Linked DNA regions of Homo sapiens: regions 1, 3 and 4 are each linked to region 2. Evidence: fine-mapped expression QTL. A gene starts in region 2. Each other region holds a variant in brackets. All regions are shown on one strand. Distances are from middle to middle. Region 1 has its middle 20 kb from the start of MDM2. Region 2 holds the start of MDM2 (MDM2 proto-oncogene). Region 3 overlaps CPM (carboxypeptidase M). Region 4 overlaps RAP1B (RAP1B, member of RAS oncogene family).

What was found. PIP is the estimated chance that this variant, and not a neighbour inherited with it, causes the effect.
Region 1: its variant is fine-mapped to the expression of MDM2 in whole blood (INTERVAL, PIP above 0.99).
Region 3: its variant is fine-mapped to the expression of MDM2 in whole blood (TOPMed, PIP above 0.99).
Region 4: its variant is fine-mapped to the expression of MDM2 in whole blood (INTERVAL, PIP 0.98).

What each region holds. Positions count from the first base shown.
Region 1 is chr12:68,786,377-68,789,062 of GRCh38, forward strand. No RefSeq gene overlaps it. Among named protein-coding and RNA genes, the nearest start is that of MDM2, 20 kb to the right of the region's middle. RefSeq lists enhancers at 869-1,423, 1,424-1,977. The variant G/A (reference allele first, on the strand shown) is at 1,322.
Region 2 is chr12:68,807,027-68,809,704 of GRCh38, forward strand. It overlaps MDM2 (MDM2 proto-oncogene), which reads left to right and starts at 1,151. Exons shown (of 11, transcript NM_002392.6): 1 at 1,151-1,465; 2 at 2,182-2,266. The coding sequence starts at 1,452. RefSeq lists a silencer at 849-1,238 and enhancers at 1,440-2,639, 1,739-2,128.
Region 3 is chr12:68,868,149-68,870,834 of GRCh38, forward strand. CPM (carboxypeptidase M) reads right to left here. Exons shown (of 9, transcript NM_198320.5): 5 at 2,067-2,251; 6 at 1,177-1,347. Among named protein-coding and RNA genes, the nearest start is that of MDM2, 61 kb to the left of the region's middle. The variant T/C (reference allele first, on the strand shown) is at 1,548.
Region 4 is chr12:68,652,975-68,655,660 of GRCh38, forward strand. It overlaps RAP1B (RAP1B, member of RAS oncogene family), which reads left to right. Exons shown (of 8, transcript NM_001010942.3): 5 at 1,138-1,278. Among named protein-coding and RNA genes, the nearest start is that of SNORA70G, 27 kb to the left of the region's middle. The variant T/TG (reference allele first, on the strand shown) is at 1,377.

The sequences.
Region 1 (2,686 bases), 21 kb before region 2:
GAGCCATCCCACCTAGCAATGATGTGTGTACTTGTGACATGATGCATAGGATTTACCTTTCCACACTCAGCTAAATAACTGTTTCAATTTTGCTAGGAAAGTTCTGGTCTAGTTTGGTCTGGACTCTAGTTTACTTTTCTTTCTTTTTAACCTTACTTACTTTTTATTTTATTTTTATGTGTTTATTTTTTGAGACATAGTCTCGCTCTGTCACGCAGGCTGGAGTGCAGTGGCACGATCTCGGCTCACTGCAACCTCCACCTCCCAGGTTCAAGCGATTCTCCTGCCTCAGCCTCCCGAGTAGCTGGGACTACAGGCGTCTGCCACCACGCCCGGCTAATTTTTGTATTTTTAGTAGAGACGGAGGTTTCACCATATTGGCCAGGCTGGTCTCGAACTCCTGACCTCGTGATCTGCCCACCTTGGGCTCCCAAAGTGCTGGGATTACAGGCTTGAGCCACCGCGCCTGGCCTAACCTTACTTACTTTTTAACTGTGGCAAAGACTCTAGTCTTCTTTTAAGAGTAACTACAATTTACTTTTTAAAATTATTAAATAATTTTCTATCATACTTTTATGTGCTGTGTTTTATGGATTATGTGTTTTATGTGCTGAATTTATGTTTTTAAATCACTTTTTAAGTTATCTGCATCACTTTTAAGCAAGGTGGTGAGAGATAAAAACCATGTCGCTTTACTTTTAAAGTGAATGACCGCCTCTAAGCTTGAAAACATCACAGTTAGACTGTGTCATTTTCTGGTCTTTAGGTGGAGCCACTGCTATTGCAGGTTTCCTAAACCTAAACCTATTTATAGAGAAATTCCTCTTCAGTCATTTTATAACCAAAGCCTCTTGTAAGTATTTAACATTACATTTTAGCTCAGTGAATTTCACTATATAGGAAAGATCCTGAGAGAACTAACAATATAAAATATGTAGCCAATTCATACATATTTTAACATTCAGAAATACTACTTATTAGAATTTGAATTTATTTCTCAGACTTTTCTGAGAGGTTAGAAGGGCCCTGTTGTGTTTAACCCAAAGACCAGTTCAAAAACTAGGGAAGGAGCTGTTTAAGAGGAAGGAATGACTAACGTCTGAAGGTCAGAGGACTAAAATCCTGGTGATTGAACAAGTTGCAACACATGGGTTTTCCCTCTAAAAAAACAAAACAAGCCGGGCAAAAAAAAAAAAAAGAAAAAAACAAACAAAAAACATTCTGTGCTGGCCCCAGTAATTACTTGTACCCTTGCTCTTTCATTTCCTCTTCTAATGATAAAGGAAGCTGCAGTTGCTCAACTTGTGAACTGAAAACATGG[G/A]ACAGCAATGACACAGGAAAATGGGCAAGTCCAGGCAAAAGCCCGTGCGGTGGCCAGAGTCCGGGCCTGCCTGCTTTCCCATCATTTTCCTTTCCCATGTTTGTTCTTTTCTTCTTTTCGCCTTGATTTCTTATCGTGTTCCTTTTTTTTTTTTTTTTTGAGATGGAGTTTCGCTCTGTCACCCAGACTGTAATTCAGTGGCACGATCTTGGCTCACTGTAAACTCCTCCTCCTGGGTTCAAGCAATTCTTCTGCCCCAGCCTCCCAAGTAGCTGGGATTACAGGCGGGTGTCACCATGCCTGGCTAATTTTTGTATTTTTAGTAGGCACGGGGTTTCACCATGTTGGCCAGGCTGGTCTCGAATTCCTGACCTCAAGTGATCCACCTGCCTCAGCTTCCCAAAGTGCTTGGATTACAGGTGTGAGCCATCACAACCGGCCTGTTACATTTTTTTAAAAAATATTTTCCACCACCCCTTTTTCCTTGTATCACACCTCTCCTTTAAGCCCACAAGTTAAAGCATTGATGAACACTTCTACTTCAACTTGGGAATATTAATACAAAAAAAAGACCCAGCACTCACTGAAGTACAACACAAAGCAAATCCCTTTTACTACAAATTCCTTTTTCTACAGCTCTTTCCAATGGATTTAAATTGTTCTTAAATGAAATTTTTAAACATATAAAATTGGGAAACATTTTAATTTTCATAGAGACCTATAAATCCATGTTTTCCCAAATTTAGTCCTGTCGAGGGTATGGGAAAACAAGTACCATCTTACATTCATCATGAGACCATAAATTGCATAGCCACAAAAATGCTCATGCCCTGTAACCCAGAAAATCCACTTTCAGGAGTTTATCCTAAGAAAGTAAAGATGTGCAAAAAGATTTTCTTTGTAGATGGGGTCTCACTGTCACCATGGCTGGAGTGCAGTGGCAAGATCATAACTCATTGCAGCCTCAAACTTCCATGGTCAAGCCATCTTCCTACCTCAGCCTCCTGAGTAGCTGAGACTACAGGCTTATGACACCGAGTGTGCCTAAGTTTTTTATTTTTTTTTTAATTTTTTTGTAAAGACAAGGTCTCTCTTTGTTGCCCAGGCTAGTCTTGAGCTCTTGGCCTCAAGTGATTCTCTGGCCTCAGCCACCTGAAGTACTGGGATTACAGGTGTAAGCCACCACGTCCAGCCCTGCATAAAGATTTTTGTGCAGAGAAGTTTATCACAGCATTATTATTATTATCATTTTTAGAGACAGGGTCTTGCTCTGTTGCCCAGGCTGGAGTGCAGTGGTGCGAGTATAGCTCACTGCAACCTCCAACTCCTGGGCTAAAGCAATCCTCTTGCCTCAGTCTCCTAAGT
Region 2 (2,678 bases):
AAAAGCTGCAGAAGGGAAGGATATAACTTTATAAAAAAAGGTCCTTGTTCACAAGGAGCTAATCACTTACTGGCCAGAGAAGAAACGTGTTCCTTCTTTGCAATGGCTGTGTTTTTGGGTTTAGCTAACTCAATTCTTTATGTCCTCAATTTATGAGACCGCATCAAAAACGTTTTTGCCACATCTCTGTGGGAAAGTAGGTGAGTCAGAATGAGTGCATAATATATAAGTATATATTTTAATGATAATGAATGTGTAGATTAACAAACCCAAACTTTGTTTTTGTTTTTTTGAGAGTCTTGCCCTGTCGCCCAGGCTGGAGTGCAATGGCATGATCTTGGCTCACTGCAGCCTCTGCCTCCCGGGTTCACAGGATTGTCCTGCCTCAGCCTCCGGAGTAGAGTAGCTGGGATTACAGGTGACCGCCACCACGCCCGACTAATTTTTGTAGTTTTTAGTAGAGACGGCGTTTCCCATGTTGGCCAGGTTGGTCTTGAACTCCTGACCTCAAGTGATCCACCCGCCTCGGCCTACCCAAAGTGATGGGATTACAAGCGTGAGCCACCGCGCCCAGCCAAACCCAAACATTCTAAAAGCGCAGAGTAACCGCTCCCCTCCCCGCCAACGGTAACCAGCATCTTCGTTCTCCAACCAGAACAGCTGTATGCACCGGTGTATAAGCCTGCCTTAAGTGCTATTTTTAATCTTTTTTAAAAACAGGCCTTAAAATAACTCATTTGGGTACAACTCCAGCGGCTGGTGGAGTGGGCTTAATATATTAAACAGCTGTTAATTTTGGTTTCTTTTTGGTAACAGCGACACGGAGATCCGCATTTGTCGCAGTTTCCACCGCGGGCGGGAAGTGTAAACACAAGAAATACAAACATAGCGCAACGGCTAAAGGAGTGTCACAGCGCCAAACCTTGCTGGCTCCGCGCCAGGCCGAGCCCCACCCTCTCAGCTCGCGGCCAACACCCCCACCCCGCCTCACAGCCCGCCGCGCCCGCGGGGCGACACCCCCCACTCCATCATCCCGGAGGTGGTGCGGCCGAGCCCCGGACCCAATTGGCGGAAGCGGGGCCGGTTGTGTGCGCGCGCACAAATGCCCGGATGCGCCGCGACGACCCGCGCGCTCCCCTCGGGCGGTAGGGGGCGCGCACCGAGGCACCGCGGCGAGCTTGGCTGCTTCTGGGGCCTGTGTGGCCCTGTGTGTCGGAAAGATGGAGCAAGAAGCCGAGCCCGAGGGGCGGCCGCGACCCCTCTGACCGAGATCCTGCTGCTTTCGCAGCCAGGAGCACCGTCCCTCCCCGGATTAGTGCGTACGAGCGCCCAGTGCCCTGGCCCGGAGAGTGGAATGATCCCCGAGGCCCAGGGCGTCGTGCTTCCGCGCGCCCCGTGAAGGAAACTGGGGAGTCTTGAGGGACCCCCGACTCCAAGCGCGAAAACCCCGGATGGTGAGGAGCAGGTACTGGCCCGGCAGCGAGCGGTCACTTTTGGGTCTGGGCTCTGACGGTGTCCCCTCTATCGCTGGTTCCCAGCCTCTGCCCGTTCGCAGCCTTTGTGCGGTTCGTGGCTGGGGGCTCGGGGCGCGGGGCGCGGGGCATGGGGCACGTGGCTTTGCGGAGGTTTTGTTGGACTGGGGCTAGGCAGTCGCCGCCAGGGAGGAGGGCGGGATTTCGGACGGCTCTCGCGGCGGTGGGGGTGGGGGTGGTTCGGAGGTCTCCGCGGGAGTTCAGGGTAAAGGTCACGGGGGCCGGGGGCTGCGGGGCCGCTTCGGCGCGGGAGGTCCGGATGATCGCAGGTGCCTGTCGGGTCACTAGTGTGAACGCTGCGCGTAGTCTGGGCGGGATTGGGCCGGTTCAGTGGGCAGGTTGACTCAGCTTTTCCTCTTGAGCTGGTCAAGTTCAGACACGTTCCGAAACTGCAGTAAAAGGAGTTAAGTCCTGACTTGTCTCCAGCTGGGGCTATTTAAACCATGCATTTTCCCAGCTGTGTTCAGTGGCGATTGGAGGGTAGACCTGTGGGCACGGACGCACGCCACTTTTTCTCTGCTGATCCAGGTAAGCACCGACTTGCTTGTAGCTTTAGTTTTAACTGTTGTTTATGTTCTTTATATATGATGTATTTTCCACAGATGTTTCATGATTTCCAGTTTTCATCGTGTCTTTTTTTTCCTTGTAGGCAAATGTGCAATACCAACATGTCTGTACCTACTGATGGTGCTGTAACCACCTCACAGATTCCAGCTTCGGAACAAGAGACCCTGGTTAGTATTTTTGTCTCGTGTAACTTTTAAGAATAATTTATTTTATGAAGTGATAAACTAAATTTCGTATACCTCAATTGTAGCATGGCTCTGTAAATAAAATTGTATGTGCATAGCTTAAAGTGTGCTACCTCTGGCGTAACTGCGTGGAGTTAAAAACTGTTAAGAACTGGTCAGTATTTTTTTAGCCATTTGCCACATTTGCTTTAAAAATTAGTTCCATTACATTGTTAAGCGTGGTTGAAGTTACGTTTGTTACGTGACTGATTTTTTTTTCCTTTTTGACCTCCCAGTATTTAATTTTTAAAAATGGTTTCTAAAAGTCAAAAAAGTTATTCGTGCTTGTTTTAAAGATTTTTGTCATTAGAGAAATTTTAAAGTAAAACCTGAAAATTCCAGGCTTTTTGCTCCA
Region 3 (2,686 bases), 61 kb after region 2:
TCTGCCACTGGACAGGATGGGCCCTTTCTTAGCTACAAATTGTGGAGAGCAGGGACGATGCAGAAGCCCTAAGGTAGGAGAGGGGGCTGTATCTTGGACACCAGAGAGAGGTTTGGAATGCTGCCTGGACCTGTTGCCTATCAGTTGTGGTCTATGCTTATTTATATTACCAGGAAAACTGACAGAGAGCCACCCAGGCATAAAAATACCAGCTTGTGAAAGATTACCTGAAAGCCTGTGCATCCAAAGTGACAATTAGGGAAGGCACCTTTGGAAGTGGCCTGCACGCAGAAATGCATGCCGCAACTTGCTGTTGGTGGGGTCAGGCTAACGAGTCTAAAAGGGAATGTTTTCCCCTGAGGCATGGAAATCCAGTTCCAGTCCGTCTCTCCTCCTGTCCTTCCACCCTAGGTCCCTCCTACCCCGGGTTTCTGTTTATATTATTCCCTCTAATAAGAATATCTCTCCTTCCATGTTGCCTACATGACAATCTCATCCTGTCCCTTACCCGGCTGTCTTATTCCAAGATTGGAGAACTGGGGGCCCTCCTCCCACTGTATCCTGTCTGAAGAGCTCTTTTGTTGAGCCCGCAAAATGGCTTTAAAATCATGATACTTCATGTACAAATTCAGCTTCTCTTTACAAACTGCAAGATCTGGCAGTATTGGCTCCCCAAGGCTGCATGACAATAATTAGCTAGATCTAGTAGCAGCTGTCCCTGTTAGATGGGATGTAAGCATCACATTTCTCCAAGCTCTTCACTACTCCCTATTGTATTTTGGCTCTGTGCACCCTTGGGGTACACTGCACCTTCTCTAAATCTGTTTTTATTCTAATTGCACTGCTATCACAATTACTTATCTGCGTGTCTGTCTCCCCTATTCAACTCCAGGGTGAGGTGTGTGTCTTGTTCATCTTTCAGTTCCTGGCTCACAGTAGGCAGACACAGAATAAGTACCTGAATGAATGAAGAAGGCCCTTGGTAATGAGGAACATGTCTGAGCATCTCTCAAACAATCAGTCATCTCCACTGCTCTTATGATATTAGCTGATAAGGACAGAGTGAAGGGCCTATTGTGCCTAAAGTTCTTTTAACAACTGCTGGATCAAAATAAACCAGCTGGCACTTCTGGGTGAAGGCAATAAGGAGAATGGAAGAAATGAAGAGAAACTCACCTTGGAGTGGATACCAAGAGTATCCATTTGTAACACCATTAGGAAAGTTCATTTTGTTTTTACACTCGTCTCCTTTCTTCATGTTGGGATTTCTTGAAGCATAGGTATGTGCAAGATATTGAAAAACATCATCATCAGGCGTTAAGCTTCGGGAGTATAATGCCCCAGTTGCTGCATTTAAAAGATGAACCAAGACCTTTAAACTGACTTGAGAGTAAGAGGAAACACAAACACCATATTAGCAAAGACATAATCGCATCACACACACATGCTCTAATTTCCCTAGAGAGAAATCCTTCATCCACCTCCTCTATTCTTCTTTCTACTTTATAATAAACATATGCAAGGTGATAGCCCCCAAATAAGTCAGA[T/C]ACAAATCCAAACTCCTAAATCAGCTTAAAAATTAAGTGTCCTCTCAGTCACTCTTGCTAATTTCTGGAGGTAAGGACAATTTCTTTAGGTATTATAGGGGTGAATAAAGCTACTGTAATATTTTGGGTCCTCATCCCACAGAGTTTTAAGAAGAGTCAACAATTATTGTTCATATATGATTAGCAAAAAAAAAAGTGAGTTGTTCCAGTTTTATGTTATTTTAGCCATGTTGTCTCTTGTCAGAGAATCAAAATCTGACTATTTAGATTGTATTTTCTAGAATCTAAATTTCACTAATTCACTGATGCATGTCCAGCTGTGGGTTGTCAGTTCAGCCACACTGCCCATCTGCTGTTGAAGAATCACAGGAAGGATGGCTAGAGTTGGGAACATGAAGCTCTTTTCACCCTGCCAGAGAAGTTAAGAGGGGAAGGGAGAGCTGATCCCCATCCAGAGGCAGAGAGTTTTCAGCCCCACTCTGGACTTAAGAAGCCAGAACTGGACCCGCACCTGCTTACCTTGAACACCATTATCAAATGGGTAACTGGCCACGAGGGCACCACCATGGAGGTTTGCAGAGAGGACAAACGTCTCTGTTTTCAGCCACTTCATGACTGCCACAGTTTCAGGCTGCCTTGAGACATTATTATATTCAAAAGCATCGGGGAAATTTCGATTCAAGTCATACTGGTTATAATTTTCCCTTTAAAAGAAAGAATATTTTAGGGCTTATTGATAGGGCATGAGGGAGTGGATTCTTACAGTGTCTTGCCCTTTGGTTTAGGCTCCAGGTGTCTTTCCAAACGTGAGTATGGGTGTGGTGGATGGCTGCCCTTGTGGCCTGCCATGACCCACACCTGGCACTTACATCCCATGGCATCCCCTGCCTCGTGATCTGCTCTCACCAATGAGATACTAGCTATTGTGATGCAGGCAGAGGTTTGATAAGTGTTTGTATTTGGGACTTCTGCTCTTAGATGCTCCCTTTTGGGACCTTGAGATCCCAATGGTCGCCACGTGGAGAGTCCACGGAGAGTCCATGGCTCCAGGTAAATTGTCTCAGAAAGACCAGAGCTGAGCCCCAGACCTGTGGCACGGACAGTAGCCATCCCTGCTCTGCCCTGCCCAAATTCCTGAC
Region 4 (2,686 bases), 150 kb before region 2:
CAAAGGGGGGTGGATCACCTGAGGTCAGGAGTTCAAGACCAGCCTGGCTAACATGGTGAAACCCGTCTCTATTAAAATACAAAAATTAGCCAGGTGCAGTGGCAGGCACCTGTAGTCCCAGCTACTCGGGAGGCTGAGGCAGGAGAATCGCTTGAACCCTGGAGGTAGAGGTTGCAGTGAGCTGATAACACACCACTGCACTCCAGCTTGGGTGACAGAGTGAGACTCCATTTCAAAAGAAAAAGAAATATTTTGATTGGTATCTGTTCTCCTTCAACGTATTTATAGACAAACTAAATTTGTAGGTATGTGAAGATGAAGGGAAGATTTGTTCTCGGTGTATGGTATTCATTCAGCTAATGTTTGAATACCTGATACATGTCAGGCACTGTGTTGTTACCTTCAAATGCTCACAGTCTAGCAAAGAAAAAGTAGTGTGGGAAAATGGGATGGTCTAGATCATGCTGATGGAGCCCTACAGAACTACAGCATTTGAGTCATAGCTAATAGATTAACTTGGCAGATACAGTTGGGGTGCTTTATACATGATGATGTATTTTAAAAGCTGCCTTTAGTAACTTTTGGGGACAGGATATTTCTGTTCCACTTGAGTATATTTTTTGTATATAAATCGACTTTGGTGTATTGTTTTTAAATAGGAAACCTATTTCCAGCTGGGCGTGGTAGTTCACGCCTGTAATCCCAGCACTTTGGGAGGCCGAGACGGGCAGATCACAAGGTCAGGAGATGGAGATCATCCTGGCTAACATGGTGAAAGCCCGTCTCTACCGAAATACAAGAAAAAAATTAGCCGGGCATGGTGGTGTGCGCCTGTTGTCCCAGCTACTCGGGAGGCTGAGGCAGGGGAATCACTTGAGCCCGGGAGGCAGAGGTTGCAGTGAGCCGAGGTCGCGCCACTGCACTCCAGCGTGGTGACAGAGCAAGACTCCGTCTCAAAAAAAAAAAGAAACTAAAATGCCAATTTTTTCAAATAGTATCTTGTCATAGATTATAATTTTAACAAAGTTACATAATACTACAGTATTCTTCATTGAGCTATAATTATAGACTGTGAAAATTGTAAAAATAACTGTCAAAACATTATTGTTTTTTAACGTTCCTTTCTTTCTATTGTAGGAGCAATTTACAGCAATGAGGGATTTATACATGAAAAATGGACAAGGATTTGCATTAGTTTATTCCATCACAGCACAGTCCACATTTAACGATTTACAAGACCTGAGAGAACAGATTCTTCGAGTTAAAGACACTGATGATGTAAGCTGACTTCCAAATAAATATATTTTATTTCAAAACCCTGATTATAATTGTTTAAGTCTAAATTTAAATTCATTTTAAAGCTTGTGTATTTTGGT[T/TG]GGGGGGGGGGTGTTGGTTTTTTTAAACTTTTTCCTTGAAAGGCAAAAATACCCATACATGTTTTCAAATATATATCATGTGGAAAGTGAGAAATTTCCTCCTTTGCCATTATCCTGTGAAAATTAAATGTTACACCCTTCCTTTTTTTTTTTTCCTTTGAGATGGAGTCTTGCACTGTTGCCCAGGCTGAAGTGCTGTGGTGCGATAGCTGTACCTCCCGGGTTCACGCCATTCTCCTGCCTCAGCCTCCCGGGTAGCTGGGACTACAGGCGCCTGCCACCATGCCCAGCTAGTTTTTTGTATTTTTAGTAGAGACAGGGTTTCACCATGTTAGCCAGGATGGTCTCGATCTCCTGACCTTGTGATCCGCCTGCCTCAGCCTCCCAAAGTGCTGGGATTTTAAAGGCAAGAAATACATTAGATTCTAACATTATTAATTTAGGTGCCCCTTCAGAGTCTACCATAATGGAGTTTAATTCCTCATCACACTAAATATAGCAGTGGTTCTCAAAATTGATTTTGCATCAGAATCACCTGTAGGACCAGTTAAAACAGATTGCTGGGCTGAGATCTCAGAGCTTCTGATTCAGTAGGTCAGCAGTAGGACCCAGGAATTTGCATTTCTAACAAGTTTCGAAGTGGTGTTGGTTTTGCTGATCTGCATACTGTAAGAACCAGGCTGGGCATGGTGGCTCACACCTCTAATCCCAGCACTTTGGGAGGCCAAGGCGGGTAGATCCCCTGAGCTCAGGAGTTCAAGACCTCCCTGGGCAACATAGCAAAACCCTGCCTTTACCAGAAATTTAAAAAAAAAAAAATTAGCCAGCATGGTGGCGCGTGCCTGTGGTCTCAGCTATTTGGGAGGCTGAGGTGGGAGGATCACTTAAGCCTGGGAGGTGGAGGTTGGCAGTGAGCTGAGATCACATCACTGCACTCCATCTAGGGTGACATAGTGAGACCCTGTCTCAAAATAAATACATAAATAAGACTCATTGTACTGCAGTTTAATTTTAGCAAATATTGTGAGAGCTGGGAGACACCCATGGTAAATGCTTTTATTTTCTGGACTTCTGAAACAAGGGAATTTGGGGGGACCCTACATAATTACAGCAACCTCAGGGAACATTTTTTAATTTGTAAATCCATTTAATAAGTGGCTTGATTTTTAGTAAATTTTGATTGGCTTTTTTTTTTTTTTTTTTGAGACGGAGTCTCACCCTGTCGCCCAGGCTGGAGTGCAATGGCACGATCTCAGCTCACTGCAACCTCTGCCTCCCAAGTTCAAGCAATTCTCCTGTGTCAGCCTCCC